5 separate regions of the Homo sapiens genome follow, and all the other regions are linked to region 1. Evidence: fine-mapped expression QTL. A gene starts in region 1. Each other region holds a variant in brackets. All regions are shown on one strand. Distances are between the middles of the regions.

Region 1 (5,798 bases):
CAGTGGTAAGTCATTGGCAGCTGGGCAGGTTGCACAGCTGGGGAGGATGACCCAAGTGAGCTGAATACTGGCCAAGGTCCTGTTCTTCTTTCACGGCTACCCTGCTTCTGTCACAACCCCCATCGTACTGAACTGCAGTTGTCAACTCCCTGGCTGATTCCCTGTGAAACAGAGCTCCTAGGGAAGAGCCTAGGTCCAGACCAGCTGTACAACTTGAATGGTCCAGTGTAAAATACAACTTATATGGCCCCTTGTTCAAAAATTGTTAAGATTTCAAGAAGGTGGCAGGACAGCATTAAACTCTGTATGAAGCCCTTCTAAGTGAGTGGCCTATGTCAGGGGTCCCCAACCCCAGGCCACAAACCGGTAATGGGGTACTGGTCCGTGAACCCTATTGAGAACTGTGCATGTGAGGGATCTAGTTTGCACACTCCTTATGAGAATCTAACTAATGCCTGATGATCTGAGGTGGAACAGTTTTATCCTGAAACCATTCCCACCCCCCACTCCCACCCCTGGTCCATGGAAAAATTGTCTTCCACGAAACAGGTTCCTGGTTCCAAAAAGGTTGGGGACCTCTGGCCTATGTGACTTCATAGGTCATATGCCCAGGAAGCCAGCCTTGCCTCGGTCTTATTCGTCACCTAGAGAGAGCTCAATAAATCCTCATTGAATAAACGAGTTTGGGTTTCTCCTGCAACACTGAATCATGTAATCATGGGGAAAGAGGAGGTGGAGATCCTCATCCTTCCCATGGTCCAGGCTAGCTCCATAGCCTGGGGCCAATCAGTGAGTATCAACTGTGCCTCAGTTTCCTACATCCATACATTGGAAGAACCATCTTTTCCCTGTCGCTTTTCTGCCACGGGCCAAGAGTAAAAGAGGCACGAATGTACAAGCTGAACTTGCAGCAGTTAATGTGATGGCTCTGTGATTCTGAAGGGCACCATGAGGCGTGGTGTTCTGTTAAAGAAAACGCCAGCAAATTAGAGACATCCCCATAGAAGCCAGAAGATGTGGTTAATGTTTGCAACATGAAATGTCTAGGTGTTCTGAGGTGGGCTAAAGGACAGTTGCTTTTCTTCCCTATTAAATAGGTGGTTAGACTCAGACACAAGGGAACAGGAAGCAGAATGGCATCAGAGACAAAGATGACTGCATGGAGTTTGGTGAGAAACCATCCTCAAAGCAGCAATTTTTTGGATGAGTCTCAGCCTTTCTGAGCCTCTGTTATTCCAACTGTGAAGTGATACAATTAACAATAACAAAAATTTGATAAGAGCAAATACATTTGGCATTTTTAATGAACCTACTACTATTCTAAGCCCTTTAAAGATACACATTTATTTCGATTCATAGAACACCCCATGATGCAGGAGCTGTTACTATCCACATTGTACTGATGGAGAAAGTTCCAGTAACTTGCCAAGGACGTAGCTGGCAAGTTGGAGCACTGAGATTCAAACCCAGGGCTTTGGCCTCCAGAGTCTGTGCACTAACCACTGTAATACCTCTGAGACTGTAAGGGGCAAATGAATGACAACGCATTGATTTAGAAGTGAAAGGCGATCTAAACGTGCAAGTATTAACACTATTAAAAACAACAATAACAATGGTAGGTACCTCCGATGCCTCTGACCTTATCTCTCTGGTCACAGTTTTCTGCTCTGTAAAATGGGTGGGCAGGCTTTACACTGGATAATCTCTGAGGCCCCTTCCACTTCTCAGATTCTGATAATGAAATGTCCTTCTTTCCTCACATAAGGCTGAGAGAAGGTCAAGCCACCAGCTTGCAGACCTTGGGAGTTGACACAGGGAAGCATACCCAGGACAGAGCCAGAAAAGCCAAGGCACGCAGTAGGGACACACCAGAGGGCAGGCCTCAGAGCCCCTGACAGCCTTCTGAAACTCTGGCAGGGTGGAGGGAGGTTGTGGGCTAGTGGCTGGCTGGGCTGCAAGGAGAAGAAAGGACTCCACAGAGTAATTTATAACAGCTGCTCAGTAAGTGCTAATTTGTTTCTCTCCACCTTGGAATAGGACTTAGCGCGTGTGAGAGGGGGATGCTACTACATAAACCAGTACCAGAAAGATGGGCTTGCCAGGAAAGAACTGGGGCACTCTGCAGGGGCAGTGTCTGGGGAAGGGTTCTCCAAAAAGGTGACATTTCAGAGGGGCCTGGATGGATGAGTAGGATTTCAACAGGCAGAGATGAAAGGGGAGGGTGTTCCAGGCAAAAAGAAGAACTCCCAGCAGCCATGAAGAACAGCTGGTGTTTGGCAACAGCTAGTGTGTCCAGAGCGAAAGTGTTGTGTGTGTGTGAGGGAGAGAGGGTGAGGCTGGAAAATTAGGTTGTGGCCGGAGAGGGCAGGGTGGGCCTTGCCTTGTGCGCTAAGCTGAGGGGTTATCCTGCAGCCGGAGCACCTCGGGAGGCCTTTGAAGATTTACTCAGTGCTTTATTAACAAATACGTATTGGGTTTTTGGTGTTTTGTTTTGTTTTTAACGATTCATGCCCACAGTAGAATATATAGAAGAGTCAGAAAAGTATAAAGAATAAGGATCCCCTTTAGTTTCTGCTCCCAGAGGTAACAGCCGGAGTGACGCCGGGCTGCTGCCGGGTTTTCGGGGGTGCACTCCCAGACACCACCTCTCCAGTGAGCCAGCGAGGGCCGGACTGATGCCCCACCTTGGGAGCCTGAATCGGGGCAAGGGGCCTAGGGAGCAGCGGGACCCCGGAAGCCCGACCAGTCAGGCCGGCTAAGTCGGCAGCCGCCCCGCCCTCGCCACCCAGCCTCCCTGGCGGCCTCAGGTCGCGCCTGCAGGCCCGGACCCCACCGCTTGGCGCGCGCACGTCCCGGAGGGCGTCCAGGGGGCGCCGCTTCCCGTTCAGCTCCGCTGAGGGGCTGGTCCAGCCCGCGCGGCTCGGAGCGGAAAGAGTCGGGCGGAGCAGGCGGCTGCTTGACAGCTGAGAGCCGAGCGGGCGGCGCGGGCAGGTCCACGGGAAGCCTACACGCCCAAGGTAACGTGGAGGAAGGTTGAGGGTGGGCGGCCGGGGCGGCCGGGGGGCGGCGCTTCCTGCCTGCTCCTCCGGCTGCGAAGTGTGAGCGCGTGTCTGCCGCACATGGAACTCGCAGAGGGCCTGGATGGAGGCTGTGTGCCCTTGGGGGGGAACAGCTGGCTCCCCTGCCACCCCCAGGCCTGGCCTGGCCCTTGCTCCCCTCCCTGTCACTCGGTAACGGGACTGGAGGAGAGCCGAGAAGCACTAGGGTTTTGGTCAGGAAAGGACCTTAGGAACCCTCCAGCCTCATCCAGCCTCTTCATTTCACAGATGAGGAAACTGAGGCTCAGAATGGTAAAGTGACTTGCCCAAGGTCTCAAGTCTAAGAACCAAAACTCCTACCTTGCAGGTCAGTGCTACTAGGAGCCCTGGCCACGCAGGCAGCATCCACAACTGTTGCCATGCCGAGAAACAAAGAACCGAGACAGACAGTCAGAAAGACACAGAGAGAGAACCTCCCAGAGCAAAGGAAGGAGGTCAGGAAGTGGGCGGCTGCTGGGGCTTGGCTTCCGCCCTGGCCCCCGCGTGTGCTGGCCTGGCTGTGTGGCTCAGAGGCGTTGTGCTGACTCTGTCCGTGTGTGTGTGTGTCCGTGTGTGTGTGTGTCTGTGTGTGTGTGTCCGTGTGTGTGTGTGTGTGTCCGTGTGTGTGCGAGTGTGTGTCTGTGCACCCATGCATGCACGGGATGCAGCGAATGTACCCTGCCACGTGGGAAAGCCCTCTGAGTTCATTTATCTGTTTACACAGTGTGCTTAGGAACCTGCCCTGTTTGGCTCTGTGGAGGACACCAGGAGTCTCAAAGGAATTCGTTCTGTGTGACTCAAGAGGACAGAAAGAGCCAATCCGTGGGAGTCCCCAGGGTGGTCAGAGGGTCAGGAGGAAGAACCTAACTCATGAGGTGATGGGTTCCTTGTCTCTGGAAGAAAGCAGCATGTACCGAAGAGTCTTTTTATCAAGGATGTGGGCATAGGGATATGAAATCAGAGCAGTTTGCTCCACGTGGAATCAGCATTTTTGTTGAAGGGTCCAGAGTTCATGCCCCTTTTCAGGTGAAATGAATATGTACAACCTCATGGTTTAGTATTTGCCCATAAGAGCTACTTCATGCGCAGTTTTTAAGTGATAAGTGAGAGGCTTCAGGTATGGCTTCCGAGGTCCTGTCACCTCTCGGTTCTATAAGTGAGAGGCTTCAGGTACGGCTTCCGAGGTCCTGTCACCTCTCGGTTCTATACTATAAAGTGTGTAGAGGGAGTTTGGAGGAGGGAGGTTACTTCTGGAAGGAGTGACTCGCAGAGGGCGTCCTGGATGTGGCACTGAGGCCGGGCCTTGAATAGGAGGCTGGGTCTGGGCATCTTGGGGAAGGACGGCTGAGCAAAGCCGTGAAGGTGGGTTGTACCTGAGGAGCAAGGAGTAATGTAGTGGACAATCCGGTGAGGAGTGCTGCCTGGGAGAGATGGCAGAGGCTTGGAGTGTTACGAGTCTAGAAACTTCATTATTAAGCCTAGGGATATTTTGATGGTTTCTAAGAAGGGAAGTGTTGTTCCTGGAGCTGGGTTCAGAAGAACATGTCATCTGCACCTGGGTATGGGATGTACTGCAGTGGAGGAAGCTGTGGGAAGAGAACCTGGGAAGAAGCCCATTGCAGTCACCATGAGGGGTTGAACAGGGCTGGTGGGAATGGACAGGAAGGGGCTAAAAGGCTTGGGGGTAGGGGAAAAGTCATCTGCCATGTGCCAGGGCCTGTGGTAGGAGATTTTCATGTTTAATCTCATTTAATCCTCCTGACAACCTCATGAGGAGATTGCTATGATTGTTCCATATTGTAGAGGAGGAAACTGAGAGAGAGGTTAGGTGGTTTATCCAAGGTCATACAGAAAATAAGTGGTGGGATGGGGATTTTAACCCAGAGAACAATGGAGTAGATGCAATCTGGTAACTGAATAAATGTCAGGGACCAGAGCAGAAGAGACCAAGATGATGGCGATTTGGATTCCAGAGTTAGAGTGGCTGGTGATGCCACTGACAGAGATGGAACCCCAGGTGTGGGGGGTGATTGGAGATGCGTCACGCTGTGGTGAGCCTGCAGAAGGCAGGCCCCAGCACTGGGGCAGTGGCCGCAGTAGCCATCCATTCTGCCTTGGGGCTCCTTGTTGCAATGGTTTGCTGAACCTGTTGTGGGGAGGGAGGGTTGAATCTGCAGGCTGCCTGGGTACTGGCAATGCAGCTGAGAGAAGCTAGGGGAGAGCTAGTGAGGGATTCCTCAGGGACAGGCTAATCACCCACTGAGTTCACATCTCTCTCTTGCTTTTCTTCCACACAAAATAGTGTCTATTTTGTTGCAATGCACAGAGGACTCAGGCACTTGCCATGATACCTTAGGTGAGAATTAGTTCAGATTTTATATTTTCCAAGGCCCTGTTTCCCTCGTATGTTTCCCCTAGAGAAGAGCTAAAAGATGTAATTGCCAAATATTGCAGAATATTGCAGAATTCAGGATCTTAAGAGCAGGTCCACGGCCTCTTACAATGTCATAGAATCACGGTGTTCTAGAGACAAGTCTGCCCTATTTTACGGATGGAGAAACTGAGTCTTTGCGAAATCATGGTCCTTTGTCAGCTGTTAGTGAGTGGCAGAAATGGGTCCAGGCCCTTGGGCTCCAGAGGTTTTGCTTTCTGCACTGACACACATGGAGGCCGCTGTCTTGCAGAGGAGCCTCCAGGGTTTCCTGTAAAATAGCCCTGGGG
Region 2 (5,942 bases), 82 kb before region 1:
ATGAAAAGAATGTGTATTCTCCAGCAATTGAGTGAAATGTTCTGTAAATGACAGGCCTATTTGATCTAGTATGTAGTTTAAATCTGATGTGTTTTTTGTTTTTGTTGTTGTTGTTGTTGATTTTCTGGCTGGAAGTCCCTTTTTATTATTTTTTTAAGTTTCTTACTTTTGCTGTATTGCAGTCTACCCCTCACTTTAAGTCTATTAATGTTTGTTTTATATACTTAAGATCTTGGGTGTTGAGTGCATAGATATTTATAATTATGTCCACTTGCTTCGTTGACCCCATTATCATTATTTATTGACCTTCTTTATCTCTTTTTACAGGACTTGTTCATAGTCTATTTTATCTCTTTATAAATATAGCTACTCTTTGCTCTTCTTTGTTTTCCAATTGCGTGGAACATCTTTATGCCTTCACTTTCATCCTCATGTGTGTCTTTATAGGTGAGGTCGGTTTCTTGTAGGTAGTATATATTTGGATCTTGGTTTTTTTTTTTCTTCGCCATTCAGCCACTCTGTGCTCTTTAATTCGAGAAGCGAGTCCATTTGCATTCAGGGTTATTATTTATAAAGTCGTCCTTACTAGTTCATTTTGTTGCTTATTTTCTGGTTGTTTTGTAACTGCTCTCTTCCTTTCTTACATCTTCCTTTCTGGTTAAGTGATTTTCTCTGGTCGTATGTTTTAACTCATTAGTTTTTATTTTTAGTGGGTCTATTATAGGTTTTTGCATTATGGTTACCGCAAGACTTACAAACACATCTTGTAGATTCAACAAGTTGTACTATAGAGAGATTAGAGATCTTTGTAATTTAGCTGTTGAGTATCTTTTTTTACCCACTAGGCCTGCCTCCTTTTAAGCACTAGATGGTGCCTTACGCTCAGGTTTTTCTCAGCTCTAGTAAATAATTAGGACACTGCCCATGCTGAGTGGGAGAGGTACCAGAGAGGTTATCCTGGCAGTGCGGGAAGGCTGACTTGGAGTTTGTGCCTGGGAAACCTGTGGAGTGAAGCTCCTACAATGTGGTGTTGCTGAATAGCCACTCTGATTTGGTGTCGTCTCCTTTGATTGAGTTACAGAGCAGTTTCCAGGGTTAGGGATTGTAGTCCTACTTGACTCCTTTGTCTCTGGCTGTTTTCAGGGATAGTTCTCCCTTCAGGTACTCCCAGTGCTTCCTGTAGATTGAGGTAGGGACAGGTCTTCTGTCAGGGAACCCAAGATGGTGGGAAAGCTGGTTGGCCACCTTAATCTCACTTTTTCCAGTGTAGAAATCATGAATCAGGGGAAAGTTTTCTGTATGCTTGATGCTGGGCTGATTTTGTGGTGAGGCATCGTGGGTGAGGAAATCCAATTCCGTTACTGTCTGCTCAGAGTTTTTTCATTCCTCTGTGTCCCTGGGAACTGTCTCTCCCTACATAATATTTGCATTCTGGGATATTGCTGGCGATAATCTTGGTGCTGTGTATTTGTTTTTGGTTTTCTGTGGGGGCAGGGAGCAAAGCCAGCTTTCTTCTGTGCCACCATCTTGGAACTGGCAGTTCATGTATTGGTTTATGTAGTTACTTGTAAATCAGTCAAGAGAGGAAAGGAGAAATCAGCAATTATACCTTTTACCAGCGCTCTTTTCTTTTTTATCCCCCATGGATTATTACGAATGCCTAGTATCATTTCAGCCTGATAAACTTCCTTTATTATTTCTTGTAAAGCAAGTTTGCTAGCAGTGAATTCTCTCAGTTTTTGTAATTGTGGCAATATCTTTATTTCACCTTCATTTTTGAAAGATAGTTTTGCTAGTATAAGATTCTTGGTTGATAGGCGCTTTTTTTTTGTTTGTTTTTTACTTTATGTATTTTGAGAATGATGTCTCCTAACTTTTGGCCTCTAGGGTTTCTGATGAGAAAAGTCAGCTGTTAATCTCATTAGGATTCTCTTATATGTGATCAGTTGTTTTTCTCTTGCTGATTTTAAGATTTTCTGTTTGTCTTTGGCTTTCGAAATTTTGACTTTGATGTGTCTGCATTTGGATCTCTGTGTTTTTCCCTTTTGGAATTTATTGAGCTTCTTGGATGTGTAGATTTATATCTATACACACACATATATATGTGTGTGAGTGTGTGTATATATATATATGTGTGTGTGTATATATATATAAAATTTACAAATTTGGATAGTTTTACTTTCTTTAAAGTTTTTCCTGTGCCTTTTTCTCTCTCCTCCGCTTCTGATACTGTAGTTATTTATATGTTGGTGCACTTAATGGTATCCCACATTTCTCTAATGCTCTGTTTATTTTTCTGCAATTTTTTCTTTCCTTTCTTGCATTTCATCTGTTACATAATGTCTATTAATTTATGTTCAAGTTTGCTGATATTTTCTTGTTCACAAATCTACCACTGAGCCTTTCTAGAGTGTTTCATTTTACTTACTATACTTTTCAACTCCAGAATTTCCATTTGATTATCTTAAATTATTTCTCTCTTTATTGATATTATTTATTTGATGAGACATTGTCATCATAATTTCCCTTAACCTGTTAAGCAAAGTTTCATTTATGT[C/T]TTTGAGCATATTTGTAATAATTGCTTTGAAGTGTTTGTTTGCCCAGTCTACCACCTGTGCCTCATCTAGAGGCAGCTTCTTTTGGTTTTCTATGTGTATTGATCACATCTTTATGAAGTTTTTTTATGTCTCATAATTTTTTTGTTGAGAACTGGATATTTTAAGTAACATAGCAACTCTGGATACTGATCCCTATTGTGGTTGTTTGTTTGGTTATTGGTTTATGTGTATATAACAGTGATATAGCTGAACAAATTCTGTAAAGTCCATTTTCCTCACAGTGTGTAGCTTCTGATATCCCAGCTCAGACTTTTCCCCTCTTAACCTGACTACTTATGTGGCATTTCTGGATTGGCATAGACTATGTACTGGTCACAGGTTGTGCTTACATTCCCTGAGGTAGGTAGATTTTTACCCTTAAGTGTTAAATGTGTGTGTGGCTTGGTGGCTGCTATTATAGTTCAGGGAGTTTACATTTTTTTTTGTCCTGCATTTAGCCAGGTGCTAGAAGCTTGGAAGTTAGTTCCTGAGAGGGCCCAACCTTGAGCATGTACACAGTGTTCCAGACTGTCAGGGATGACAGTGCTGTTTCATTTAACCCTGGCTTCATAGGAATTACCCCTGGGTCAGAGTAGCTTCTGTTACGTCGTGTTTGGCCAGAGGTGGTGATTCAGACCCTTGTGCCAATGAAGTTTCTCCGCTCTGTCAGTGGGTACGTGTATAGCTTAGAGAACGTTTTCAAGACTGCCCCACGTTCTGCCCTGATCATTCCTGGGTGTACACAGCCTAGTGTTTTTATACTGCCTTTCTGACTCCTCTCTGATCTAAGAGGGCTCTTCTTGGCTGTCTCTGGTTCTCTGCATTAAACTTCTGCTTGCTCTGCCTTTCTGCTTATATTGGAGCTCCTAGCCTTTCTTAATTGTTTTTCATTAATATTTCCACTGTTTTCTTTCTTTCTTTTTTTTTTTTTTTTTGAGATGGAGTGTCGCTCTTGTCGCCCAGGCTGGAGTGCAATGGTGTGATCTTGGCTCACTGAAACCTTTGCCTCCTGGGTTCAATCAGTTCTCTTCTCTCGGCCTCCTGAGTAGCTGGAACTACAGGTGCACGCCACCACACCTGGCTAATGTTTTGTATTTTTTGTAGAGTTGGGGTTTCACCATGTTGGCCAGGCTGGTCTCAAACTCCTGGCCTCAGGTGATCTGCCCATCTTGGCCTCCCAAAGTGCTGGGATCACAGGCATGAACCACCACACCCGGCCCACTGTTTTTGATAATGCCCTTAGGCATGGGGTTCTGCTCTCTGTTCCAAATAAAGTCAGTCCTCTCAGATGGAAATGTAGAGCTCTTTGTCCTTATGGCTCGTCTTTACCCCTGAGCAAAGTCTCCATGCCACTGCTCCTGGGGCTGAAGGTGAGAGTCTTTTTTCCCCAGAGTAACACTCCATTCTTAGAGTGGGCAGTGGAGTGCTGGTAGCAGCCCTTGGTCTTCTTAGCTGACTGCTCCTGGCACAAAACCTCTACTCTGGGAGGAAGTTGGGGCGGTGGCAGTCAGGGCCCAGTATTTGCAGCCTGCTGTACCTGGAATAGAAATTCTACCTTTTGAATGGGGGCTGTGTAGGGAAAGAGAGACGGGTCCTCTGTGTCACCTCTCCAGAACAGAGCTTCTACACCTCTGGGCTGAAGGAGAGGAGAAACACCAGCAGCCTGCCCTTCCCGGGGTAAAACTAGCCACAGACTGGAAGCCTGAGGGAGAGGGAGCCCTCTGCCTGTCTTTTGGGTACATATACCGCAGGTAGAGGCTTCATAATACAGACCTGGTAGGATGTGGGGAATGGTGCAGTTTGTAACTCAAACGCCACAGACTCTGACTTGTTCTGAGATTGAGTACATTTTCTTGAATGAATGTTTCTCCACTTTTTGTATGCCCTTAGTACAGTTTCCAGAGACTTTAAATGTTTGTTTTTTAAAAAAATTTTCAGCAGTTTTTAATTTTTAATTAATTAATTTTTGTGAGGCAGGGTTCTGCCGTGTCAAGCTGGAGTGCAGTGGCGTGATGTTAGCTCACTGCAGCCTCAAACTCCTAGGCTCAAGTAATCCTTCCATCTCAGCCTCTCAAGGGGCTAGGACTATAAGCATGCATCAGCATGCCTGAGTAATTTTTATTTTATTTTTTTGTAGAGATGGAGTCTCACTGTGTTGCCAGGCTTGCCTCAAACTCCTGGCCTCATGCAAACCTCCCTTCTCAGCCTCACCAAAGCCCTGGGATAACAGGTGTGAGCTACCACGCCCGGCCTACTAGTTTTTAAAATGTAGTTTTGCCAGTTCCACTGAGCTCCTTATTCTGTCATTCTGGAAGTTCTCGTTCATTTTTAAGCTTTTAAGATCAGGTTTGAGATCTTCTTTATATGTAGAGGCAAGGAAGTTGTTATTACCAAATATGATTTCCTGAAGATACTATACTCATGCTAACAAAATAAATTATACTTTGTTGTAGTAAACTAAAATTTATATCAGAAAACTTGAAACCAGTCTGGAAGGCAGCCTTATTTTCCTTATATAGACCAGGATTTTGACTTTAAACTCATTTTCCACACAGCTTTTCAATTTGATGATTCAGACTGACTGTTCCCAGGCTCTGTAAATAAAGATTCTCTTTGTAACAGATAACATTACGGACAGGCTCTACCAGCATACCCATTGCCCTTGAAACTTTACAAAATGCTTTGCCGCTTTGTACTAGCTTTTTCTTCTTCCCAGCCTGCTTCTAATTACAAACAGGAAAATCAGACAGGATATGGCATTGTGACTGAACAAGTTCATTCATCTAACATTATTAAATACCTGCTTCATAACCGATAACTGGTGAATATTCTTTTTATTACCTATAAATGTGTCCTAGCCTAGAGCCATTCTTACTATGGTTGCGATATTTTAAAGTTATTAATTTAAATTTGACTTAACTCTTTGAGCATAATTATGCAAAATAGTCATTTCTTTGGAGAGAAAACTTACTGTAGAAAATGGAAATGTTTAATCTTATAAAATGCATCTTTTTAAAGAAACCCAGAGCATCTGTGAAGCAAAGCAATTAAACTAAATGTTAGCAACATAGGAGAGGAGAAATAACTGTCCATGTGTGAAAAGGAGACAGTGGGGCTTGGTAACTTAGGGGAAGAAGTGATGTTCAGGAGGCCTTAGGTGTTGCTTTAATATTCTCTGTACTGCTAGCTGTGAATCTAGACAAAAAATTGTATTATTCTCTGCTTCGGTTTTTTTCCTGACTTTAATTGGAAAATAATCACTTATCTCTCCTGCACATTGGATTGTGGACGAAAAAAATAGTGTAATTTGATAAGGAATTGTATAAGATTTGAAGTGCTTTAGGA
Region 3 (5,942 bases), 24 kb after region 1:
AGCAGTGGCGACAGCTTCTAGAAATTGTCTAGTAGCCTGACATCCTAAAGAATGTCCTGGAGAGCTGGAAAAGCGGTTCTTCCAGACACATGCAGGGAGCAGCGAAATGAGATGCAGTAGAAGGTTGAATCCAGCTGGGAGCACAGTGCAATTTAGTTAAGAGTGACTTCTGTGGCATCTGCTGGTCGTGGGTGAGGGCTGGGGGAAGATAATACTAATTTGGCCATTATTACACATGTCTTTCTTGAATCTTCAATCAGATTGTCAACTCCTTGAGGGTAGTAATGGAATATTTTATGTCTTTTGCATTCTTCACAAGGTCGGGTACTCAGCCATTGTTTATTGGTTGACTATTTGATGCATTCCGACACAATACACTTGACCGGGCCAGGTCCTGGGATCTTCATTCATAGGAGCAGTGTTGTCACCAGTATCTGTTGGGCACCTGCTGAGAAGGAGCAATGGCGGGTACTTTTGCCACCCGAGTTGGCCTGAGGTTGCTGAGTGTATGAGTTTCCTAGGGCTGCCTTAACAAAGTGCCACCAACTGGGTGATTAACAGAAATGTCAGGTCTCCCAGTTCTAGAGGCGAGAGGTCTGCAACCAAGGTATCAGCAGGGCCTGACCCCTCTGTGGTGTATAGGAGGCCCCTCCTTGCCTCGCCCTGGCTTCTGACGATTTGCCGGCCGACTGTGGTCTTCCTTGGCTTGCAGCTGCGTCACTCCAATCCCTGCCTTTATCATCACATGGCATTCTCCCTGTGTGTGTGTGTTTCCAAATTTTCCCATTTTTATAAGGACACCAGCCATATTAGGAACCGCCCTACTCCAGTATGACCTCATCTTAACTCATTACATCTTCAGCAACCCCGTTTCCAAAGAAGGTCACATTCTGAGGTACTAGGGGTTAGGACTTCAATGTGGAGATCACAGTTCAAGCTGCCACACTAAGTGAGCTCATTCACAGTGACAAGACTAGGGACATACAAAGGGCCGGGGTGAATATGAATGGTGTTCCATGGTGCTGCCTGAAAGTGACTGGCAGCAGTGTCAGCAGGGGAGCATGTCCTCTGTTCTCAGCATTCACTAGAGAGGTGTGCTGAGCTGGGGCCCAGCTGGACACATTGGATGCTGTGCTCCAGAGGAGGAACTGCACTCACCTATCGCTCTCCTTTGTATGGGACAAGTGGGACAGAGCCTTGATGGGGGGAACACACCACTGGGGTTCCAGGCAGCCTTAACTATCGAGGAATGGCAGGAAATTCTGTCTGCCCAGCACCTGGTGACCCTGGAGCTCCTCAGTTTCCCGGGAAGTTGAGTTTTGGAGCAGTCTCTTCCAGAGAGGCTGGGAGTGCATCACTTTCCCCCTGGAGGTGGCGGAGGCTGCTGGGCCCAACTAGCTCATTGCCAGGCAATCCAGAGAGAGTTCCAGACACCAGATACTGAACAACCTACTTGTCTCCACACCTAGTAAAGCTTGGATCCAATGCTGCCAACTTTTCTGCCTCTCCAGTTTTGGAGCCCTTAATGTGAAGGTGCAACCCAGAAGCCTGCAGGCTGTTCGTAGCCTGTAGATGTGTTTTCTTCCCAGTAGCTGGTGTATACAGTGTTTTTGTATTATTTTTCAAATAAGCAATACATTTGTGTGGTTCAAAAATTAAAGCGCTATAGAAAGGTATTCGGCGAAATCTTATCCCTGCCTCCATTGGCCAGTCCTGCCCTGCCCCTCCCTTGTAACCACTTTTATTAGTTTCCTATACAACCTTCCAGGATTTCTTTTTGCAGATAAAAGTCAGTACAAATATATATCTGCCTCATCCCTCTACTTCTTACATAATTATAACAGACTCTACACACTATTTTTAACCTTGCCTTTTTCACTCGATTTATCTTGGTGATCTTTCCCTCTCAGTATGTGGAGAGCTTCCTCATTCTTTTTTTACAGGGGCATAGTATCCCATTGTATGGATTTACCATAATTTAGCAATCCCCTACTGATGAACACAGGTTGTTTTTAGTCATTTGCTGTTAATATTACAAGAAACACTGCACGGAATAAACCTGCCATTTCATGTTGACCCTGAACGTGTGTAACATTTAAAAATTCTGAAAAATCTTTGAATAATCAACAGAACTGGAAACACTCAGTTCTAGTATGTGGACAACTGGTTGGGTTGGGTAGCAGCTGTCCTTTTAAAGAGACCTCCCTGCCCCGCTCTGGCATCTTCCCCACCACCTCTTGCTGACCCTCTTGCGTTCAGCCTGAGCGTTGACTGCCATCTAGCAACATTGTGCTGTTTCTCTCATAGAGTATTAAGGAGGAAGGGAAATCACTCATGTACTCATGTCTCTTCAAGGGGGAAACTGAAAACCAAGGAGGCTGTCTTTTTCCAGCAGAGGGAGGAGGGCAGACTTAATATGAAAGCGATTCTTCTTCATCGGCCCCTGCCCACTCGGCCCATTTCTGTTAATCTTCTGTATGCTTGAGATTGCAGCCCCTGCCTTGCCATGTCCAGGCTTTCATCTCGGGAGCTGAAAAGTGGAAGGGAAAGAACTCTGCTCTCTTCTTGCTTTTGTGCACTATCTGAGTAATTGCATGGAGACCAGCAATAAAAATGAAATACAAGACAGTCAGAAGTGTTGCTCCATTACATGGATTCTCTCAGCAGACCCCCCAAGGCAGTGGTAGCACTAGCTCACTTTTCCAGACAAGGAAACAGTAGCAGAGTGAAGTGGCTTCACCAAGACTCATAACTCGCACACAGAAGAACTAGGATCAGAACCCAGGTTTTTCTGTCACTAGAACCTGACATTTTAGCCAATCTATCATGCTGCTCCCAAAGTCTTTTTGTTTTTTCTTGAGACAGAGTCTCGCTCTGTCACCCAGGCTGGAATGCAGTGATGCAATCTTGGCTCACTGCAACCTCTGCCTCCCGGGTTCAGGTGATTCTTCTGCCTCAGCCTCCCAAGTAGCTGCGACTACAGGTGCACACCACCACATCCAGCTAACTTTTGTATTTTTAGTACAGATGGGGTTTCACTATATTGGCCAGGATG[G/A]TCTTGATCTCTTGACCTCATGACCTGCCTGCCTCGTCCTCCCAAAGTGCTGGAATTACATGCATGAGCCAGCTTACCCGGCCCCAAAGTCTTTTTAAATAAGGAGTGGTTTACAGTTAAGCCTCTCACCTTCTAAGTCTGTCATTACTGATGCTGTGGAGATGATAGTCGTGACAAAGATAAGAGCAGCTCTGAAAATGGGCCAGATGGCTACATACTGCAAAAAAGGTGGGTGACAATGCGTCTGTGGTCTCATAACTAACGTGACGGCTGTTCCTTGACAGCTTTTCCCATTTCATAGAGTGGAATTGGCTCCCCTGCCCTTTTGCTCTTTCAATCCAAGAACATGTATTGAGCACCTTCTGAATGCCAGGCACTGCGCTCGGTGTGAGTGACAAGCCTGGTGCCTGGAGGCTAGTTCAGGCAGGTCAACAGAAAGCTGCAGTGCCACCAGCTACATGTGGTATTGGTGACATGGATGCGTTGGGTTGTGTCCAGAATGTGACAAAAGAGACAAATACGCCATGGAGCAACCATGGACAACAAGGCGAGTGGCTTCCAGCTGTCTTGGGTCCTCGTCATTTTACACTACTTGATGAAGGAAGGAAGTGGGACCCAGAAGTGGTGGCTATGAGCTAAGGTATTGAGCCATCCTTCTGCCCGCAGCCCAGGATGAACATGACCACAACTGGCAGCTCTCTGGAGGCCACTCGGGGTTGAAAGGTGGGCCAAAGGAACCCTCCCTCCCTTTGCTGCTCCACCTCAGCTTTTCTCATTCCTGGCCATTTGTTTATCCTGTAAGCTGGGGGCTGGGGGTCTCCCAAAGTATCACTCATCCTGAGAGTTAGCATTCTTCCAGCGGGGCAAAATCCTCTTCCCTACTGAAGAAATTCTAAACCCAGCCAGCTGAAAGAGGAAGAGTGCAGGGGTGAGGGGAGGATGGGACCAAGAGGGCACATTCCACTTGATCTCTGAAGTCACACCTCAGCAACGGGACTTGCCCGCCAAGGCTTCTCGTCACCATGCTTTGTTGGATTTGTAATGTGCTGTTTATCTCTCTTCTCCCGCAAGTTTGCATGCAACAGCATCTGTCATCTCTGTGGTTATCTTAGAACAACTGGGGCTTTTGCTTTTTATTTATTCTTTCTCTGAGTGCAGTGCTAACCACAGCAGCCTACGGGCAGAGGGGTTGGGGAGGGAGTCAGTTGCTTTTCATTGAAGTGCTATGGTCTTCAGCTGCAGCTGGTGTGAGTGCTGAAACTGTGTGAAACAAAAGTGTTGAAACTCAGTCCCAAGTGACTTCTGGGGATCCGTTGCCTGTGTTTCCTATGGATGAGTAATTAGAAACGAGTGGTTTTCAGGTTGAAAAGGAGACTCCAGAGTCCTGATGGAATACAGACAGCAGGCACGTCTAGGGCCACAGACAGGTATGTGTGCTGCTCTGTGCTGGCAGCTGTGTGCAGATACAAAAGAAGTATCCCATACCCTCCTTGCCCTCAAGGAACTTAGTGACAGGAAGGAGAGCAAAATTTACAGTTGGCCTACCCTCTTGGGCCTGTTTCCTCATTACAGAAATGAATGAGGTTACACTTGATCAGTATTCCTTATTTTATTTTATTTTTTTTTTAGATTCAGGAGGTACACCTGCAAGTCTGTTACATGGAGATATTGCATAATGCCGAGGTTTGGGGTTCTAATTAACCCATCACCCAAATAACGAACATAGTATGCAATAGGTAGTTTTTCAGCCCTTGTTTGGCGAGTGTTTCTAATGGGGTCAGGCTGTCCCCTAGAGTAATGCCTCTCACACTTTCAAAGAAGTTAAGCCAAAAGCCCGGTATTTAGGAAATGGTTGTTTTAGGAAGAGAAGCCTAAATGGAATAAAGACAAAACCTCGAAATGACGAGATGATCTCCCTGCTTCATGCATTCTGTCTAGATCAGAGCATTTCCAAATATACACTGAACTGAAAAGGGCACAGTACAATATGCAGTGACCGCAAAGCAAGGAACCCATGCGCAGGTCTGTAACAGGAAATCTGAGACTTCATCCAGCCGATGTAGAATTAGATACTAGTTTAAATTAGCAGAGGCGCCTCAAACTTGTTTATAAAAGCTGTTTTAAAAATAATATTCTTATCACATATATTTATATTTGTAGTACAATGATAAGAAATCTCTTGCAAAAATTAGCTATCATGGTTACTTCTTTGGGGTTGCCTTTTGTTCTTCCTTCTTACTCTGATATTCTCCTTCAAGATTTACCCAACAACTTTTCCCAATCCATCCTCTTCTTCTCACCGCCCATACTATAAGGATGTCATTTTAAAAGCTTTTTTTTTTTTTTTTTTTTGAGACAGAGTCTCACTCTGTTGCCAGGCTGGAGTGCAGTGGTGCGATCTCAGGTCACTGCAACCTCTGCCTCCCGGGTTCAAGGAATTCTCCCACCTTAGCCTCCCGAGTAGCTGGGACTACAGGGTGTGCCACCACGCCCGGCTAATTTTTGTATTTTTAGTAGAGACGGGGTTTCACCATGTTGGCCAGGATGGTCTCAATCTCTTGACCTTGTGATCCACCCGCATTGGCCTCCCAAAGTGCTGGGATTGCAAGTGTGAGCCACCACGCCCAGCCACTTTTTTTTTTCTTTCTTTCTTTTCTTTCTTTTTTTTTTCTTTACTGCTAAAGACCGAATATATGCCTCAACACAGTGGGTGGGATTTCCAGACTGGAAACATGTTTTCTGTGACACTTTGTCACTATCCTGCCCCATATCACAGCGTAATAAATTATCATGACGCTACACTTATACGTAAGACTGAGCTCACGAGACAGGATCCTGTGCTTCCTTGTTTCCTCTGCTTGCACATTTGTAATTTGATTTGGCTTGT
Region 4 (5,942 bases), 70 kb after region 1:
TATATAGGTGGACTTATATAATATTTGTCCTTTTGAGACTGGCTTATTTCACTTAGTATAATGTCCTCAAGGTTCATCTGTATCGTAGCATGTGTCAGAATATTTTTAAAGGCTGAATAATATTCCATTGTATGTATATACCACATTTTGTTTCTCCATTCCTTTGTCAGTAGATACTTGGGTAGCTTCCGCCTGTTGGCTATATGTGAATAATGCTGATATGGACATGGATGGGCAAATATCTGTTCAAGACCTTGCTTTTTATTCTTTGGTGTGTATACCCAGAAGTGGAATTGCTGGATTATAGGATAATTCTATTTTGTAAATTTTTTGAGGAGACACCATACCATTTTATACAATAGCTGCACCATCACATTGTAATTTTAAGGTGCAAGTTGTCTGTCCTGTCTTAGAGAAAAGAAACGGGCATTTCTGCTGAAAAGGGAACCTTCCACTCGTATCCAGCTGCTGTTATTCTTTGTGTCCAATCTACATGAGTGGCGGCAATTTTGCCTCCTGGAGGACATATGGCAATGTGTCATGTTCACAACTACACCAATTGTCATGCTTGGGGATAGGTTCCAGCCCATGCTGAGGTCCGGAGGGAATGAGTGGATGAGCAGAAACAATACTCAGGGGGCCGTAGGCAGGTGAATATGGTTTTATTCAGCAGCAGCTTTCATCAACAGCTTTCTCACACTGTCCGCCCTGTCTTGGCTACTTAATCTGGCGGCTCCCACACACAGCTGCGTGGCCCGCTCTCCCTTGCCTTCAGGGTCAGCAGCTTAATTCTTTCTTTGGGCATGTGTCCTGGCTCCCCGCAGTCTGTCTGCAATGACAGGCAGCTCTGACTCTCTCTCTTTCTCTGGGCACAAGCGCAAGCATGCCTGCACAGTGTCAACAGGACAATTATATCTTTTACAGACAATAGTGGTGTACAGCCAAGTGATGGCCTTCTCATGTTATGGCTACATGGCTGTGATAACAAGTGGAATTATACGCCTGCACTCTAAACTTGCTGACTCACGCAGGATGTAAACATTCTACCTCGGTCTATCTTTGACCAAAGCACAGCCATATTCCTTACACAATGTATGGAGGCATTTTTTATTGAAACGACTGGTGAGGGAAGTGCTGCTGGCGTTTAGCAGGCAAAGGCTAGGGATGCTGCTACATATCCTGTAATACACAGGATGGTCCCTCCCCTGCCTTCCCCTCCACTACCCCCTTAACCAAAAATTGTCCATTCCAAAATGTCGGTAGTGCCAAGGTTGAGAAACTGTGGCCTATACCACGTAATCAGCCCAAGCCAAGCACATCAAGGTGCAAAGCAGGATAAAGGTTGATCCTGCCCTCCCACCTCCCACTCTCGTCCTAGAGAGATTTGGTATAGCTGAACTGTACCACAGGGAAGAGGGTGGTTGGTGCTGGAATGGGGGTCTGAAAAGAATGCTGTGATTGCCCCAAAAGGAGGGACAGTGTAATTCTGGACATAAAAAATGGATATCCTCTGATTTTTTCCTCAATAAAAATGTCATGGAAGCATGTTTGAAGCTGTGCAACCATACACTTTAAGCTACATGGGGTATGTTACTGGGCTGGTGACTAGGAAGGTAAAGGAGCCTGGCTGGAGTGCAACAAAAGACATCACTTTCCCGTGGCTCTGGGGCATGAACTCTCAGTACTGCTGCTGTAGATGCCTCATGTTCTAGGTTCTGGAAGGTTGCCAGTCACTATGAGTCTTGCTGAGAATTAGCAGTTGGGCTGGTCAGGTTCTGGAGTGTGTGAGGTCTAGACCAGCACTCTGTACATAGGAGCTCAGGGTCTCCTGCCATTGCTCTTAGTCAAGCGCTTATCTATGCCTTCCTTCAACACTTATCTAAATAGTCCATGTTTGTCAGCATTGGGCTAGATCCTGGGGACACAACAGTGCCTAACGAATGAGGTCCCTGTTCTCAGAGCACTGAGGGAGCAGACGTTCATCAATGAGTCACATCTATCAGTATATAAAATGCTAATTGGGAAAGATTTATGAATGAGAGAAAGGTAGTTTGGGGAGCTTGTATAACCTGACCTAACCTGGGGAGGTGCAAAGGCCTTACGGAGGAAGTGACGCAGGAGCTGAGAGTGAAGAAAGAGTGAGGCTGGTGTTTAAAGGAGCCAAGGAGTTCTCAAGAGCTCCCAGGGCCATGGGCAGTACGAATAGGAAGCTGAGTTCCTCCTCATGCCTCTCTTTTTCCCTGGCCCACCCTTCCAGGTGTGTGAAAAGCTGTGCGTGCCACAGGATCTCTGGAAGGCTGGGTCTTGGTGCTGGCAAGAGAGACTTTGTGTTCTGATTTTGGTGGTGCTGGTAGGTGGGTAGGTGTGGGAGGTAATGAAGGTGAGGGAATAACAGAATGAATGCCCTGGAGAACTATTAGACAGTTGCTCAAGCCCTGGATGGAAAATCAGTTCTTTTCCCAGCTGTGGTCTGCACTGTGACTTTAGGCTAATCTCAGAGCCTCACAGGCCTATTGCACAGTGGAATAAATAATCTTGCTCCCCTCCACCCTGCTTATCTCACTTAGTTAAAAATGTAGGCCAGGTCCAGTGGCTCAAGCCTGTAATCCCAGCACTTTGGGAGGCGAGGCCAAGGCAGGTGGATCACAAGGTCAGGAGTTCAAGACCAGCCTGGCCAAGATGGTGAAACCCTGTCTCTACTAAAAATACAAAAATTAACTGGGTGTGGTGGTGGGCGTTTGTAGTCCCAGCTACCCAGGAGGCTGTGGCAGGAGAATCACTTGAACCCGGGAGGCGGAGGTTGCAGTGAGCTGAGATCACATTACTCTGCTGGGTGACAGAGCGAGACTCTGTCTCAAAAAAAAAAAAAGTAATAATAAAAATAATAAAAATAATGTAAACAGTACCAGGGGACCATACCAGAATAAGCTGGTTTTCTGTGGCTCTGTAGGCCCTGAGCAGAGCGATAAATAAGAGATAATTATGGTTATTAAGACTAAAAGATTTTTCAAGGAGGGCCAACAAAACAAGGTGAAAGAATCAGGTGTAGTGAAGAATCAGGTATAGAATCAGTTGCAGAGAAGGCTGAAGAAGCACTCAGCGCTGACTTGCCAGCACTTGAGTAGTAAGAATTACTTGGAACCTATAATATTGCTTTCCCCATCTTTGCTGACAATGGGAGGAGGAAACTGACTTGAGATGTAGACAAGAACTGGGATTAGACAACAGGGGGATTTGGGGTTCGAAGTGCTGCTGGATTCAGGAATGGTGCCTAAGGTGAGCTGTGAACTAGCCTCTCCTGGTTCATGCTAACATGAGAAAAGTGTGTGGGGTGTTTGAGTGAAAGGCATGTTGAGGGTCCCGTTGATCTCTGGAATTTTCTTGCAGCTCATTTCTTGCTCCAGCCCAGTGCGAGAGACCACATTTTGAATCAGATCCAGCAATCCTAGTCTGAGG[G/A]TGGGGAAGGAGGAAGGATAATCCAAAGGAAGGACTGGAATGTGAGCGTGACAGGAGCTTGCGCTTTTACCCTACCTCAGGTGTGATGCTTCTTATTTCCAATGATGCTAATAAAATCCCTGCTTGCAAAATTGACTCTCTCCTCACCCGTGTTCTCCTACTGTAGCTTTTGAGACAGCTGGTTTATGGATTGTTGATAAGTCAGAGATTCTGCTGAATGCTAAGCAGATATACTTCCAGAATCTTTGCACACTCTCTCTCACTCTCCTTCCTTTTCTGAAAAGCCCATTCATATTTAATTCAATTCTTCTAAATGGCTTCCACATCAGCCTGTCTTCCCACTTTATAATGCATCATAGTCTCCCTTAATGCATGTACCTGCCAAATTAAGCTTTATGGCTTATCAGCTAGAACTGCCATAGGATCAAGCCAAGTATTCTTGCCAATTATGTTATGGGCTTTCACACCTGCCAGCTCTTTTTTATTGTTGAGGTTGGTATATACCTTTCTTCTTACAAAGCCCCGCATTCATTGTTTTCAGCTGTCAGTCACTTCCACACTGGCAATTTCGCACGGTTACCGCTTAGGTAACTGGGAGGAAGGGAGAGGATCGGCTGAGATATAACTCTCTGGGGAGTTCTCATTTGGAGACCTAGATTATTTGGGTATGAGGGTACACTTGCTTCATCTATGCAAGTTAGCCTTGGCTTGGGGCCATTGCACATCGGGCAGAAGGCCAGAAGGGAGCAGCAACAGCTCAGCTGCTTTGCTCTTGGGCCTATTAATTGTTCTCTGCCCTTCCCTCCTTATGAGGTCTGAGTCTGCTCTAGACTCAAATCCAGCGATAACCTCCTCACACTATCTTGTCCAGTCCCCCTTTAACACACAAATACTCTTGGGGCCTTGATACCTTAAGCCAATGGCAGTTGAGATCTTATTAGGAATTCCTTACCAGTCAGCAGGGAGCTGGAGTGGAACCTGGACTCGGGGCCTGGGTGTGGGTCACTCAGAGGTAGGAAGGGGGATTATCCCATATCCCCTCAGAGCTCAAGCACCAAAATGTGTGTCCACAGACACTTACAAATGCAGTGCTGAGGCAATGGGACACCAGGGGCCTCCAGCAGGAGAGGCCTCAAGTAAGTGACCCGCACCCGCATCGTGGTACGGGAGAGGAAAGGGGGCTTAGGGAGAGCAGGGAAGACAGGGTTTGAAGCCTGGCTCTGCCACGTACTTCCTTGAGGGGCCTCAGTGGGCCATGAGTCTCTCTCTCTCTCTGCCTCCCTACTACTTTATATTGAATGCTTTCTGTATGCAGGCACTGTTATATGCTTTACATTCATGATTGCATTCAACTTTACAGCACCATGCTGTGTGAGTATTATCCTGAAAGTATTTGGTCCTGTACAGTTTGAGTCCTTTACAGATGTTGAGAGTGCTGGCTTTGGAATCAGAGCTGGATTTGACTCCTGGCTATGTCATTACTAGCCATGTGACTTTGGAGCAGGTAATTTCACCTCAAACTTCATCTGTAAAACAGAGATAATAGTGCCTAGCTCAGAGTGTTGTCATGGGAATTAAATGCAGATAGATAAATAAATGCATATTTACATATTTGTTTATTTATAAATCACCTAGCAAATGGCCTAGTACATTCGTAGGCACCCAATCAATGGTAGTTGTGCTAACATGCAAAGGAGGAGAGGGATGGTGAAGCAGTCTGGATGCAGAAGCTTTCTACTGGCTTTTGTAGGACTGGGCCGAACTCTAGACACTTTCTGGCAGAAGGCTCTGCAGTCCCAGGTCACCTCCCCCACCAGTGAGTGTCAGTGTTAACCAGTACACTCTGGGTTGTTTTCAGAGGCTGCATAAGGAGCTACCGCTCAGCCTGGAGGAACTGGAGGATGTGTTTGATGCCCTGGATGCTGATGGCAATGGCTATCTGACCCCACAGGAGTTCACTACTGGATTTAGTAAGTTCTGATGGGTGCTGGGGACCTCAGGGTTATGGGTCTACCTAACACTGTATAAGGTGCATTCCTGTCCCTTGTAGACCTGGGGGGCAGGTAGTAAAGCTTTCCTGCCCTCCTTTCAGGGACCTGGAGCTCAAGGTCTCCAGGCTCTAGATTGCTTGGGCCTCCTCACATGCCCGTCTCAACTGCTTACATTGCCGCTTGCTCAGTGCCCACTGCACTGCCATTACCAAGCTCCCTCCCACTGGGACTGGCAAGGGAGATGGACGGAAGCTCTGCAGAAGCCATAGCATAAAAGGGGGAGCTGTGATGAGATTTGCAGCCTCTCCTTTTCTGCCTTCATAGAAAAATGGCCAAAAGGTGGGACAACTGGATGGCTCATTCCAACCCAAGTCTGGCTGAATTTTCCAGGTTGAGGGATAACAGCTATCAGAGGAATTTCTAGAAGGTTTGAACAGACTAGACATTCTCAAGGTAACCAGGAGGAAGAAGAATCGAGATCTATGAACAATATAA
Region 5 (5,942 bases), 120 kb before region 1:
TATAGGTATTCTTTGATTACATTTTTTTCAATGTGTAGAGGCATAGAAAAGTCCAGAAGGATCTATAATGAGCTGTTTAATTTTCATTTCCTATGGGGTAGATCCTTTGTTGCATGGAAGATTATTTCACTCTGTTAGCTCTCTTTACATCAGTAGGAATACATCCTCATGGTTTTAAACATCTTGAGGGAGCTTTCCTGACACTCTACTCTAGGTAAATATGCTCGCATAGCACTCTCTATTCACCATATTACCTATAAATCATATTGCACTTTTTAACTTTTCTAAACTACTTTTTGCTTTCTTTTCTAGATTATAAAATCTTGAGGGCAGGGATAGTATGTAAAGGTTCCCTTGTGAGCAAATAACCGTCACTTATTGAACTCTGTGTGCCAAATACTGTGCTAAATGCTTTCAATAATCTCACTCATAGGGAGATATTACTACCATCTCCATTTTGAGGATGAAGATATTGAAAGATTATGAAGTTTCTCCCAAATGCCATTGCCAGGCCTGTGTGACTCTTGGTCGTTACACGGTGATCAATAAAAATTTGTTTCATAGGAAAGAAATACAGCCAGCCGTGGCTTTAAGATCACTGGGTGATACAGTTGGACCAGAAACCCTTTAAACTCCTTCGTCAGACACAGACTCGCAAGCCCCGCCCAGGACGACCGCCCGCGCGCGTATGGATAAGCGTGCAGGGGCGGGGCGAGCTTGTAGGAGTGGGGCGGAGACAGATCTGACTGGCCAACGTCGGGCGGAAGTCGGGAGGTTGGGTGGTCTGTAAACGCTGGCTTGTGACAGGGAGGGGGAGGAGGAAGGCCTTCGTAAAGGTTGCATCTCCGTCCCTTCGCTCCCGGGGACCCGCGGGAAAAAAAAAAATCCAACACCCAGGCCCCGCGGCTAGCCCCTTCCCACAGGCTCTCTCCGCTCGATTTTGTCACCGTTATGTGGGAAGCGAATCCAGTGAGTAGCCGGGCGGGACGGGGCGGGCCCAGGGGGCGGGGTTGATGAGAGAGGGGCGGGAGGGGGTCACCGGAACTGCTTCCCCGCGCTCGCTTCAGTCTGGGTGTTGAGTTCCGGGACCGGAGTTCCCGGGCCTTTTGGCTTCTGTAGTCTGTACCTTTTTAAGCAGTGGAAGTGCCTGGGTGGATTCTCCAATGCTTTATTGTTTTCTTGTTACAATTATTTATTTTACTTCCCGTGATGTTTCAGCCTCATCCCTTCACCATTTGTTGTTGTTGTTGTTTTTGAGACGGAGTCTCGCACTGTTGTCCAGGCTGGAGTGCAGTGGCGTGATCTCGGCCCACCGCAACCTCCGTCTCCCGGGTTAAAGCGATTGTCGTGCCTCAGCCTCCCGACTGCCTTCACTGTTTTTTGAAACTTTGTGTTTTGCTTTCTAATTGGAGTAACTGGCCTTGGAACCTGTAGTCAGTCATTTGCCTCAGGTTTACCTGCCAGTCCCACCAGTCTAAAGCAAGGGAATTGGGACCCCCTTGTCTTGAATGGGCCTAAGAGGAGCCATCAGTTCTCCTTTTCCCTTCTTGGTGGACAGTCGTTTAAAACTTGGAGTATGGACTGTATGTTCTTAGATGTTTTCGTTCGGTGGACAAAGTGATCTGGAGCATTTCAACTGCAAGTCTGCCTTCTTCCTTGGCTGACTCTGGTATTTTCATTATGACTTCATGTGTCTTTGTCTACTTTGCTTTTATACATTTATTTATTTAAAGTGCAACGTAGGGGCCGAAAACTTTAGTACCTTTCCTCACCACCCATTGTAAGGATCACAGCCACCACTCCTTAAAACAGAAGATAGGTTAACAAGGTAAAAGCAGAGCAAATCTAATCAAAGTTTTACACCACCAGGCACTTCAGAGACCAGGGAGATCTCTATTTTTATGCGTAGGACCCATGAAGAATAGACAACTGTGTAAAAATGTGACTGGACAAAGGATATACTCTAATGTTAATAAACTGAGGAAGGAAGCCCAGCAAGGTCTGTTTGTTCAGATTCTTCTTGGCCTCTCTGTGTATCATTTCTTCCTCCTACGGAGGAGGAAGGTCCCTTCTGGAATGAGGGTCTTAGCGACCTACTATCAGGCAAGGTAGATTAGAGAATTTCTTTATGGCCAGTTCCTATAGACAATGGCAGGGAAAGCTTAATAGTTCCAGTTTTTATGGCTTGCTTTGTAGGAGAGGGATCCTAGTTTCTATCACTCACCTTGGGGAAGAATTCTGGTTTCTGTGACTCACTTCTGGGACGAAAGATGGGCAGGAGACAGAAGGGCAGGAGATCAGAGGGAGAGACTGCTTCCGAGGCTGCTTCTGAGGCCTTCCAATCTCTTTTAGTTCAAAGTATTCAGCATGCCAAAGTGTCATACTTCGGGGTAGTATTTTCTGAGCCCCAACACAACCCTCAGAGAGTGGGATCTATTTGCCAAGAGTATTCTTCTGTTGTTATGGTTGAAACTGCCTGGTAAGGTGGCAGATGTATGGTATTTAAAACTTAGGAGTTGACTGGAAAAATGGTAGAATCACATTTCAGCAAGTTGTTGGACTAAATACAGTCGTGCGCCTCCTAACAATGGGGATATGTTCTGAGAAGTTCATTGCTGGGTGATTTTTTTCATTGTGCCAACGTCATAGAGTGTACTTTCATAAGCCTGCTACACACCTAAGGCTATATGGAATAGCCTATTGCTCTTAACCTAGAAATCTGTACAGCATAGTATTGTACTGAATACTGTAGGCATTCGTAACACAATGGAAAGTATTTATGTATCTAAACATAGAAAAGATACAGTAAAATAAAGTGTTAACAATCTTTGGGACCACTTGTATATGCGATCCATGGTTGACTGAAAGCTTTTATGCAATGCATAATTGTGTATGAAACATAAGAAACTACTCCTATGCTGAGATAACTGCATAAATTTACTTTAATAACCCCTAATTTCCATATTTGCAATAATTTCCTATAATCAGTATTCTTCCCCTCTCATTTCTGGAATATATTTCCAGATAAGTTAGAAAGTTTATCAGTACATTTCCCTATGTTTTTAAGTTAAGTTTTTATCCAGTAGAAACTAGTCTGTTGGTCTGGATTTGGTAGTTGCACATTATGGTTCCTTCTTGTGCATCATATAACAATAGTCATCATCTTAGTATTTTCGATTCATACGTATAATACTCTCTTCAAGCTGCATTAGAGGAAAGTAATTACTTGTATTTGATTTTAGCAAAAATAATTTAGA[A/C]TAATGAGAATGTGCTCTCTGCTTATATATTCAGTTTCACTATCTGTCATCAACAACCTTCATTTTGTATTTATATCTTTATGTAGCTATTATTCCCTTTTTGTTATCAGTCCTTCTTAATTTTTCCATAACAAACCCTTTAGCCACCCAAGTATATGTCTTACTCAAGGTTTTAAATCTTTCACTATATTGTAAGATCCACAAGGACAGGGGTTTTTCTCTGTTATTTTTCCTATAGTATCTTCAACTAGAGAACAGAACCTGACACATAGTAGGCACTCAATAAATATTTGTTGAATTCATGATGGTGGTTGTACCAGCAAGGACTAAAGATAATTCTTTGCTCCTACTATGAATTTTCCCTCCTGCGTCACACATACATCAGAATTTGCTGTTGGATTATTTGTGTGTTTGTGAGAATTATAAAGGCATTAATGAATGTCTTATATACTTGATTTGTTATATCATTATCTCATTTCTTTGTAAGCAATGGGTTTTCTTTGAAATCACCTGTGTGATTTTGCTAATTTCAGCAGAGCAGGCTGACTTTTGTTAAAAGTGGGGAATCCTCCACAGATCATCTCACATTCTTCTTTTGCCACCCAAATAAGACATATTTGTCTTACTGCTACTGTATTTTATTACTACTAATAGTTTTTCTTCCTATAAGCATATGAATGATATCAGTAAGCGCAATTTGGTTTTAAAAATCAACATTCTACGTGTGGGTTTCTCTAGTAATTTGTTAGTTTATTTTAGTTTCGCTTTCCTGGTTTCACTTACCACAATTTCACTTACCAGAAGTCAGCTGCGGTCTGAAAATATGAAATGGAAAATTCCAGAAATGAACAATTAATAACTTTTAAGTTGCATACTGTACTGTGTAGTGTGATAAAATCTCATGCCATTGTGCTCCATCCTGCCTGGGGCCACGAATCATCCCTTTGTCCAGCATATCCACACTGCATATACTCTACCTGCCTGCTGGTCATATAATAACATGTAATGTCACTCACTTATTTATTGAGCACCTGTTATAAGCTAGTTAGTGCGAAGTCCCAGGGTTTACAGTGGTGAACAGAACAGACTAGGCTCCAGCCTTTATGGGTTTGCAGTCTGGTGCAGGCAGGCAGATATTAAACAAATAATTATGCAAATACATTTAATTTAAATTGTGATAAAAAGATATGAAAGAAAAAGAGTACTATGACAGTGTAGGGGGAGCTAATACTAGACTGGGCAATCAGGAAAGGCCACCCTGTGAAAGTAACTTTTATAGAGATCTGAAGGATTGAGCAAGCGTTAGCCAGGTAAAGGTTGGCTGGAAGGTGGGGAGAGCTGTTCAGACAGCAGAGATAGTGTGAGCAAAGATCCTGAGAAAGAAAGGAGCTTGGTGCTTGAGAAAAAGAGAGAAGCCTATGTGGCTGGGACACAGTGCACCAGAAGACAAGCCCAGGAGGTAGGAACCAGGCCATGCATGGATTTGAGGCACATGTTTAGGATTTTGAACTTTATCCTTAGAGGAGTGGTAACACATTGAAGGAAGTGTCATGAACATATTTATGTTTTTAAAAAGATTACTCTGGCTGATGTGTGGAAAATGAGTTTATGTATTAGAAAATATGGTAGACGTAATAATGGCCTCCTAAAGATATCCACATATTAATACCCAGAATCTGTAAATATGTTGTTACATGGCAAAAGGGAGGTAATTAGCTAATCAGCTGACCTTAAGATAAAGAGATTACCTTGGATTATCCAGGGGGGCCCCAAAGTAATCGCAAGGGTCCTTAAAAGTAGAACATGGGGACAAAAGACATGGAGTGACTATGGAAGAATGGTCAAAGAGATACAACATGGCTGACTTTGGAGATGAAGGAAGGAGGTCACAAGCCAAGGTATGTGGGTAGCTTCTAGAAGCTTGAAAAACCACGGAAATAGATTCTCTCATACAACCTTTAGAAGGGAATCAAACTCACCTTGATTTTAGCCCATTGAGATGCATGTAAGATTTCTTCAGAAATGTAAGAAAATAAATTAGTGTTGTTTTTAAGCCACTGCGTTTGTGGTAATTTGTTCTAGCAGCAAAAGAAAATACTGAGGGGGATAAGGGGCTGTAGGAAGACTAATTAGGAGGTTATAGTGTAGTCCAGGGTAGAGACGAAGGTGACTTGGACTATGTGGGGAAAGTATGAAGTCACCTATGAAGGTGACTACTAAGTGGGGAGAGAGGAGATCAATTCAAGCTGCATCTTAGATGATGACTTAGCTTTCTGGCATGGGCAGCCAGGAATAAGATGTTTTCACTGAGCCATATGGAAGATAACAGGAGTTTGGTTCTGGACTCACTATGTTTAATGTGCCTATGAAGCATCAGGTAGTAAAGTTTGGAAGGCAGTTGGTTAGGGAGGTAAGTCTGGAGCTCAGAGAAGAAGGCTGGGCTGGAAATTGAAATTTGAGCCTCAGTGTCTATAGGTAGTCTGTCACCCAAGCTGGAGTGCAGTGGCATGATCTCGGCTAACTGCAACCTCTGCCTCCTGGGTTCAAGTGATTCTTGTGCCTCAGCCTCCTGAGTAGCTAGAACTACACATGTGCACCACTACACCTGGCTAATTTTTGTATTTTAGTAGAGACAGGGTTTCACTGTGTTGGCCAGGCTGGTCTTAAGCTCCTGGACTCAAGTGA

The links. PIP is the estimated chance that this variant, and not a neighbour inherited with it, causes the effect.
Region 2: its variant is fine-mapped to the expression of CRACR2A in whole blood (INTERVAL, PIP above 0.99).
Region 3: its variant is fine-mapped to the expression of CRACR2A in whole blood (TOPMed, PIP above 0.99).
Region 4: its variant is fine-mapped to the expression of CRACR2A in whole blood (TOPMed, PIP above 0.99).
Region 5: its variant is fine-mapped to the expression of CRACR2A in whole blood (INTERVAL, PIP above 0.99).

Annotation. Positions count from the first base shown.
Region 1 is chr12:3,750,234-3,756,031 of GRCh38, reverse strand. CRACR2A (calcium release activated channel regulator 2A) reads left to right here and starts at 2,923. Exons shown (of 20, transcript NM_001144958.2): 1 at 2,923-3,017. RefSeq lists a silencer at 2,689-3,188.
Region 2 is chr12:3,832,225-3,838,166 of GRCh38, reverse strand. All of the region lies in intron 1 of PARP11 (poly(ADP-ribose) polymerase family member 11), which reads left to right. Among named protein-coding and RNA genes, the nearest start is that of PARP11-AS1, 35 kb to the left of the region's middle. The variant C/T (reference allele first, on the strand shown) is at 2,558.
Region 3 is chr12:3,726,619-3,732,560 of GRCh38, reverse strand. All of the region lies in intron 2 of CRACR2A (calcium release activated channel regulator 2A), which reads left to right. Among named protein-coding and RNA genes, the nearest start is that of CRACR2A, 24 kb to the left of the region's middle. RefSeq lists a silencer at 3,625-3,724. The variant G/A (reference allele first, on the strand shown) is at 3,056.
Region 4 is chr12:3,679,722-3,685,663 of GRCh38, reverse strand. It overlaps CRACR2A (calcium release activated channel regulator 2A), which reads left to right. Exons shown (of 20, transcript NM_001144958.2): 5 at 5,315-5,426. Among named protein-coding and RNA genes, the nearest start is that of CRACR2A, 70 kb to the left of the region's middle. The variant G/A (reference allele first, on the strand shown) is at 3,457.
Region 5 is chr12:3,868,239-3,874,180 of GRCh38, reverse strand. It overlaps PARP11 (poly(ADP-ribose) polymerase family member 11), which reads left to right and starts at 782. Exons shown (of 8, transcript NM_020367.6): 1 at 782-969. The coding sequence starts at 952. It overlaps PARP11-AS1 (PARP11 antisense RNA 1), which reads right to left and starts at 4,009. Exons shown (of 2, transcript NR_183432.1): 1 at 2,225-4,009. RefSeq lists an enhancer at 1-333 and a silencer at 1,005-1,114. The variant A/C (reference allele first, on the strand shown) is at 3,258.